2 separate regions of the Homo sapiens genome follow, and region 1 is reported to be linked to region 2. The links are microRNA targets in miRTarBase. Many come from high-throughput screens and were not tested one by one. Region 2 holds a microRNA gene; the other region holds the end of a gene's coding sequence.
Evidence for each region. The annotated mature microRNA hsa-miR-3200-5p reads AAUCUGAGAAGGCGCACAAGGU and lies in region 2 at 2,498-2,519, shown strand. An mRNA with a match to its seed (bases 2 to 7 or 8) in the 3' UTR can be bound and repressed. Matches are read on the target gene's strand: a 7mer-m8 pairs with bases 2 to 8, a 7mer-A1 pairs with bases 2 to 7 and ends in A, and an 8mer does both.

Region 1: miRTarBase lists ZNF442 as a target of hsa-miR-3200-5p. Seed matches in the 3' UTR shown: 7mer-m8 at 953-959.

Annotation. Positions count from the first base shown.
Region 1 is chr19:12,345,469-12,349,919 of GRCh38, reverse strand. It overlaps ZNF442 (zinc finger protein 442), which reads left to right. Exons shown (of 6, transcript NM_030824.3): 6 at 1-3,976. The coding sequence ends at 219. It also overlaps a transcript of ZNF563 not described here. Among named protein-coding and RNA genes, the nearest start is that of ZNF563, 14 kb to the right of the region's middle.
Region 2 is chr22:30,729,072-30,733,071 of GRCh38, forward strand. It overlaps MIR3200 (microRNA 3200), which reads left to right and starts at 2,486; the gene lies at 2,486-2,570. The region is part of intron 1 of OSBP2 (oxysterol binding protein 2); the gene reads left to right.

The sequences.
Region 1 (4,451 bases), not on the chromosome of region 2:
CTCACTTGCCTTCTGCGACATGAAAGAATTCACACTGGAAAGAAATCTTATGAATGTCAACAATGTGGTAAAGCCTTCACTCGTTCTCGTTTCCTTCGAGGACATGAAAAAACTCACACTGGAGAGAAGATGCATGAATGTAAGGAATGTGGGAAGGCACTGAGTTCTCTCAGTTCCTTGCATAGACATAAAAGGACTCACTGGAGAGATACTCTATAAATGTGGAAAAGCATTCATTAATTTTATTTCATTTCAGAAACGTGAAAGAAATCACATAGGAGATAAGCCTCATGAATGCAAACACATGGTAAAGCCTTAAGATGTTTCTTTTGAATATGGTTATCCCCTAACCATATGCAGGGGATTGGTTCCAGACCCCCTAAGCATACCTAAATCCACAGATGCTGTGTTCCTTTTATAAAAGGACATTTGCATGTAACCTATCCACATCCTCCTGCATCCCATAAATCATGCCTAGATTACTTAATTTTTCACCAACCCAAAGCTTTTGTAAAAGTAAAAATAAAAAGTAGGTTACTAAAATACCTCATGTGTTGTAAAAGCTATGTAAACAGTCATTTTATTGTATTTTTTTTAGAGAATCGTGATATGAAAATAATCCTGTGCTGTTGAGAACAGACCCAACCATCACAGGCCTGCCTACATAGTACATGTCACCTAGAATGTTACAGTTTCTTTTTTTCTTTTTTTTTTTTTTAAGACAGAGTTTCACTCTTATTGCCCAGGCTGGAGGGCAATGGCACAATCTCAGCTCACTGCATCCTCTGCCTCCCGGGTTCAAGCAATTCTCCTGTCTTAGCCTCCTGAGTAGCTGGGATTACAGATGCATGCCACCACACCCAGCTAATTTTTTTTTTTTTTTTTTTTTTTTTGTATTTTTAGTAGAGACGGGGTTTCATCATATTGGTCAGGCTGGTCTCGAACTCCTGACCTCAGATGATCTGCCTGCCTTGGTCTCCCAAAGTGCTGGGATTACAGGCATGAGCCTGTAATCTACAGTTTCTTTTTTTTCAACAATCATAGATTGCTTTTATTTAATGACCTGGAATCGTGTGTTAACACTTATGAAAATCCTGATCCTTCTTGCTTGATAACCCAAGGATGATGATGATGATCATGATCATGATGATGCTGATTACAGTATGGTGCCTAATATGATTCACTGAGGTGACTAGATGGGTGGCACTGTAGATAAACAGTGAGACATCAGGCTCACTTGAATCTTGACAGGATGTCAGGATGATCATCTGTGTTGGATGAACCAGGTTCTGATTGCAGATGCTGAGTTTGGAAGAGACTAAATAATACTAATGTCAGAATCTGTTCAGCATGAGGGCTGAAGATGTGTACACACTGAAGGATCTGTCTTCATATTTGCAGATATTTAGTTAGAAACATTGTTGTAGGAAGCTGGTTCTTTTTCTTTAAATATCCTTGCAGTGTTTGTTGGCATGTTATCCCTTGGGTGACACAGAGGTTTTGTTCCATTGAAGGATCTTACTTGAGGATGGCAATCTTTATTTTATTTTTATTTTTATTTATTTATTTATCATTTGAGACTGAGTTTCGTTCTTATTGCCCAGTCTGGAGTGCAGTGGCGCGATCTCGACTCACTGCAACCTCCACCTCCCAGATTCAAGCGATTCTCCTGCCTCAGCCTCCAGAGTAGCTGGGATTACAGGCACTCGCCACCATGCCTGGCTAATTTTTATTTTTAGTAGAGATGGGGTTTCACCATGTTGGTCAGGCTGGTCTCGAACTCCTGACCTCAGGTGATCCACCTGCCTCGGCCTCCCAAAGTGCTGAGATTACAGGCATGAGCCACCGTGCCCTGCGAGGATTGTAATCTTTAATACTTTTCACCTTGCAGAGGCTGTAGATGCCCCAAAAACTGCTGCACATGTTTCAAGTGTCACATCTTTGATATTACCTCTTCTAAGTCTTCTGCATCATCATTATCATCATTATCTGCAGAGAATTTCAGTATATCTTCGAGTTCCTTGTTAGTATTTATGCTCTCTTATTTGTGTTGGGATAGAAAGATTAAGGAAAGGAGAGATGAGAAGGTGGCTCAACAGTTGAGACAGTTTTATTGGGAGTAAACCTGAGAAGGGCTTCCAGCGGCAGGGTCAGGTGCAAACTTCTCTTACAGCCTGAGGCTTTTTTAAAGGGCCCAGTGGAGAAGTGTGCTTTGAAACAAAATTCTGTTAGGGAGGGGTTGGGGAAGTCCTGGCTGTTCTGTTACAGTTAGGGCCGTTATTCTCTGTTGAAGTTATGGGCGGGGCTGACATTTTCAGTTTTGGCCAGGTGGCCAAATAGAAACTTAAAGCTTAGGATGGTGGAGTGTTATAAAGATGGCGGTGCTCTTGTCCTGTCAATGTGTTCCTCAATAAAGTCTTCAAGCATGTCATAGATTGTTTTCCCCACCAACCTCCCTTGCAGCATTTGAGATATTCCTGATACTTCATCAATAGTGGAGAAGCTCCTGAAATCATTGACTTCCTCACTCCATAATGGTTTCCAACACCCAATGAAGTAGTAGGAGGAAAACATGGGTTTCTTCTCCTGGAAGCCTCCAGAAGAAGGTATTTCAATATGGGGAGAGTGGTCAGCTGTGTCACAGGTCACTGAGAATTTGAATAAGACAAGGAAAAAGGGTTGACTGTAGATTTTGGCAAGTATTTGGTCACTGGGGGCCTTGATAAGAGCTGTTTCATTGAAGTATTCATGAGAATAACTTGTAGTGAAATATATCTCAAATAGACCTCCACGATGTTGCCTAGAGGGCAGTGTTACCCTTTGAACTACCAACATTAACCACTGGAACTGCTCATCTGGAAGCCTCTTACAGTGCTGGTACAAACTAGAATACACAAAGGAAGGGATCATTTTATACGTGTTACTGTGCTACTTGCTCTATCTACTTAGTGTTCCATACATGTAATTACCTATTCCATCCTATCCCAAAGTACTGAAAATCTCCATTCTACTTTCTCTGTCTGTGAATTTGACTATTCATAGAGAGAGAGATATGTGGAAGTATGCATGTGTCCTTCCATGTCTGGCTTATTTCACTTAGAACGTTTTCAAGGTTTATCCATGTGGTAGCATGTATCAGGAACTCATTGTTTTTGTGTCTGAATAAATTTCCACTGTATGGTTAAAGCATACTTTGTTTATCCATTTTTATGTTGATAAACATGGGTTGTTTCCACAGTAATAATTTGACTGCTATCAATAAGGCTGCTGTGGATGTGGTATGTCTATGTCTGTGTGAGTCCCTGCTTTCAATTCTTTTGGATATATGTATCCCTAGGAGTGTAATTGCTGGTTCACAGAATAATTGGTGTAAACCTTTTTCAGGAACAGGTATATTGCTTTACAAAGTGGCTACAATGTTTTACATTCTCTCCAGCAATGCATAAGGGTTTCTATTTTCCACATTGTCACATATACTGGTTGTCGTATTTTTTTCATAATAGCCAATTAATGGTTCTGTACTGCTTTTTCATTGTGGTTTTGATTTGCATTTCCCTAATGACCAATAATAATGCACATTGGTTTTTGTTTTTGTTGGTTGTTTATATATTTTTTGAACCAGTTTGTTTTAAAATCCTTTGCTCATTAAAATTGAGTCATTTGTGTTTTGTTGTTGAGTTATAGGAATTCTTATTTAAAATTTTTAGTTTTTAATATTTAGAAAATTTCTTTCTTTTTTCAGCTCCCAAGTGCTTGGAAGAGAGTTGTAGGAATTCTTTATACACTGTGGGTATTAAGCCCTTATTTGATATGTGATATGCAGATGTGTTCTCCCTTTCTGTAGGTTTTCTTTTCATCTTGAGATTGTCCTTTGGTGCGCAAAAGTTTTTAATTTCGATGTAGTCCAGTTTATCTTTTATTGGTTGTCTGTGCCTTAAATGTCGTATCCAATAAATCACTGCCAAATTTAACAAAATTTTCCCCTATGTTTTCTGCTAAGTAATTTTTTTTTCTCCCTCTGTCACCCAGGCTGGAGTGCAGAGGCATGATCTTGACTTACTGCAACCTCCACCTCAGGTTCAAGTGATTCTCATGCCTCAGCCTCCCAAGTAGTCAAGTAGCTGGGATTATAGGCACCCACCACCACGCCTGTCTAAATTTTGTATTTTTAGTAGGGACAGAGTTTAACCATGTTGGCCAGGCTGGTCTCCAATTCCTGACCTCAAGTGATCTGCTCGGCCTCCCAAAGTGCTGGGATTACAGCCATGAGCCACTGTACCCAGGCTCTTCTAAGTATTTTATAGTTTTAGCTTTTAAGTATAGGTCTTTGATTAAATATAAGTTACTATTTATACATGATGTAATGTGATGGTTCACTTTTATTATTTGCATGTAGATATCCAGTTTTCCCAACACCATTTTTTGAAAGATTGTCCTTCTACCAAAGAACG
Region 2 (4,000 bases):
TTGAGTGCTTTTTCATATGTTTATCAGCCATTTGGGTATCTTCCTTTGTGAAGTGCCTACTCAAGTTTTTTACCCATTTTAAATTGGTTCATTTCCTAGTATAAAGGTTCCCCAAAAAATTAAAAATAGAACTACCATATGATCCAGGAATCCTACTTTTGGACATTTATCCAAAAGAACTGAAATTAGGATCTCAAAGATACTAGCACTGCCATGTTCATTGCAGCATTATTCACAGTACCCACCTAAATGTCCATCGATGGATGGATGGATCTAAAATTATTGGCTGGGCACGGTGGCTCACGCCTGTAAACCCAGCACTTTGGGAGGCCAAGGTGGGAGGATCACCTGGGGTCAGGAGCTTCTGACCAGCCTGGCCATCGTAATGAAACCCCGTCTCTACTAAAAATACAAACATTAGCTGGGCATATTGGTGGGTGCCTATAATCCCAGTTACTTGGGAGGCTGAGGCAGGAGAATCGTTTGAACCCAGGAGGCAGAGATTGCTGTGAGCCAAGATTGTGCCATTGCACTCCAGCCTGGGTGACAGAGAGAGATTCTATCTCAAAATATATATATATATGTGTGTGTATATATGTGTGTGTATATATGTATACACAACAGGGAGATAGCCTTAAAAAGGTAGGAAATCAGCTGGTCATGGTGGCTAATGCCTGTAATCCCAGTACTTTGAGAGGCCGAGGCAGGTGGATCACAAGGTCAGGAGTTTGAGACCAGCCTGGCACACATAGTGAAACCCTGTCTCTACTAAAAATACAAAAATTAGCCAGGCTCTCGTGGACTTCAGCTCTTGTGGACTTCAACACGTTGATTATGGGTTTCTAGCCTCCAGAAGTGTGAGATAATAAATTTCTGGGTTTTTTTGTTTTTTGGGGTTTTTTTTTGAGATGGAGTCTCCCTCTGTCACCCAGGCTGGAGTGCAGTGGCACAATCTCGCTCGGCTCACTGCAACCTCTGCCTCCCAGGTTCAAGCGATTCTCGTGTCTCAGCCTTCCAAGTAGCTGGGACTACAGGCGCATGCCACCATGCCTGACTAATTTTTGTATTTTTAGTAGAGACGGGATTTCACCATGTTTCCCAGGCTAGTCTCAAACTCCTGACTTCAAGTGATTTGACGACCTCGGCCTCCCGAAGTCCTGGGATTACAGGCGCGAGCCACCGCACCCAGCCTGGAGTTTGCTTTTAAAGCCAATTTTTATAAAGTATAAAAGTATAACATACATGCAGAAAAACTGGTCAATTACGAGGATGTAGCTAGTGAATTTTCATGGAGTGAGCACCTCCCTTATTTTGAATTTATTTCCCCCCACTTATTGTTAACAAACAGTGGCTTGTCATTTACAGGCCTGTGTCCTTCCCAAGCTAGACCATTGAGGCCAGAAAGATGTGTCGTATTTATTTTTGTATCTACTCCCTCCCCAGTTTCTAGCACAGTTCCTTTATATAGTAGCCCACAGGAAGTGCTTGCTGAATTAGAATGCAGAAGGTTGGATGGGAATTTCACAGTGAATCAGGGTCACCTTGAGCTTGCATTGAATGGAAGTTCCATATAAGACTAAGTACTTTGCTCCAGAGTGGTAGCTTTTGGTCTTTCTGTGCATCTGGATTCAGATTCGCTGCCCTGTCTCTCTCTCTCTCTCTCTCTCTCTCTCTCTCTCTCTCTCTCTCTCTCTCTCTCTCTCTATATATATATATATATATATATATATATATATAATTTTTTTTTTTTTTCCCATGGACATTTTTGGGGAAGGGCTTCTGGAAAACATAGCCCAAGGCAGGGATTAAAGAGCTAATGCTGGCCGGGCGCGGTGCCTCACGCCTGTAATCCCAGCACTTTGGGTGGCCGAGGCAGGTGGATCACGAGGTCAGGAGATCGAGACCATCCTGACTAACACTGTGAAACCCTGTCTTTACTAAAGATGCAAAAAATTAGCCAGGCGTGGTGGCGGGCGCCTATAGTCCCAGCTACTCGGGAGGCTGAGGGAGGAGAATCGCTTGAACCCAGGAGGTGGAGGTTGCAGTGAGCCGAGATCGCGCCACTGCACTCCAGCCTGGGCGGCAGAGTGAGACTCCATCTCAAATAAATAAATAAATAAATGAAAAATAAAGAGCTGACACTTTGGGAGGTGCAATCCCAGGGCAGTGAAGGAGCAATGGCAAGTGGCAGAGGAGAGATCAAAGTGACCACCCAGCTCATTCCCTTGCTGGATGAGACTTCACAGCGAGCTACAGAGACACGGTGGGTCGCTCAGCAAGCATGCTTGCCTGGCACATGGACTTTTCCAGAACTTACACAAGAAGAAAATACACCTCAGAGCCATCCGTGGAGGGAAGAGTGGGGGGAGATTCATCTGACCTGTTCTTTTCATATCCTATTTTCCACGGTGGCATTTCATACAAGCCCAGAAGTGGAGGTACGGCGTGACCTGGATGAGGCATCATCGAGAGAGACAAAGAAGGAGGTGGTCGAGGGAATCTGAGAAGGCGCACAAGGTTTGTGTCCAATACAGTCCACACCTTGCGCTACTCAGGTCTGCTCGTGCCCTCCCATGATATCAGCTCTCCTACTTCAATGTGGGAATCTCCGTTTTCCTTGGAGAACAAAAACATCCTCATTCCTTCCCTGAGCAGGAAGGTACAAATCCCATCAGTGACAGAAGCCATTTCCTGGTGCTGGCCCACTGGGGTTACCAGGAAGAATAAAGCAAGAAGGTTGTGAAACAAGGTCATCTGCTGCTGCTGTGGCCGGTCCTGGTGTGCTCATTGTTACTCATCATTTCCCTCCTGCACTACCCACCCTAGACCCTCTCCACTCTCCGCCAGCACTCTGGCTGGTCTGTGATGTTTGCGCTGAGTGGTCTGCATGTGTTGTTGGCCTTGCTCATTATCAGCCGTTACCAATCATGGAAATGTTAAGAGATACCGGTGCTAGGCACAGTGGCTCATGCCTGTAATCCCAGCACTTTGGGAGGCCAAGGTGGAAAGATCACCTGAGGTCAGGGGTTCAAGACCAGCCTCACTAACATGGTGAAACCCCATCTCTACTAAAAATACAAAAATTAGCTGGGCGTGGTGACGGGTGCCTATAGTCCCAGCTACTCGGGAGGCTGAGACAGGAGAATCACTTGAACCTGGGAGGCGGAGGTTGCAGAAAGCCGAGATAGCGCCATTGCACTCCAGCCTGGGCAACAAGAGTGAAACTCTGTCTCAAAAAATAAATAAATAAATAAAAATAAGAGATATCCCAAGGAGTCCTCTGGGTTTTATTCCAGACATTCTCCTCCCATTTCCAAATGGGCCACTCACCTAATTCCTCATGGCAATTAGGATCAGTGACCCCTGGCGGTAGAGTCACTCCCCTGGCAGTAGAGTCACTCCCCTGGCAGTAGAGTCACTCCCCTCTTTGTTGGTCACTGGCATGAGGAGCCGTAGGTGGCCAAGTGGTTGTGGCAGTGTCCAGATCAGTGGAATCTTTGTTTCACATTCCTCCCTTACCCCAGGACTAGATCCTCTAACCCAGCTGATCCCAAGTGTGTGAGGATGGGAAGCACACACCTTGCAAAGGGCAACCATGCGTGATGGTGAGCAGGGCCACTCCTGGACCTGTCTGCTGTAGCTGTGGGGGACATGGCACCAGATATCAGTTGTCAGCTCAAGGCATCCTGGAGGACAGAGGCTCAAACCTGAGGGGTATTTCTCCCTCGGTGTCCCCGCTAAGCCAGTAGGCCATTCCATTGTTTTGTCAGGCTCGCTGCCCCCTAGTGCAGCTGGGTTCCTGTGATTCCAGTGAATTTATGGCCAGGAGTCACTGGCACAGCTGCTAGGCTGAAATGGGCCACTTTGTATAAGGCTGTATCGAATGGAAGTCCAGGCCAGCACACGAGGCATTCAGTAACTTTGGACCATGGTGCTGCTGGAGGCACTACAGGCAGGGAAGGCAACCTCATTACCAAAAAGCACTTCCGTTTCATGAAGG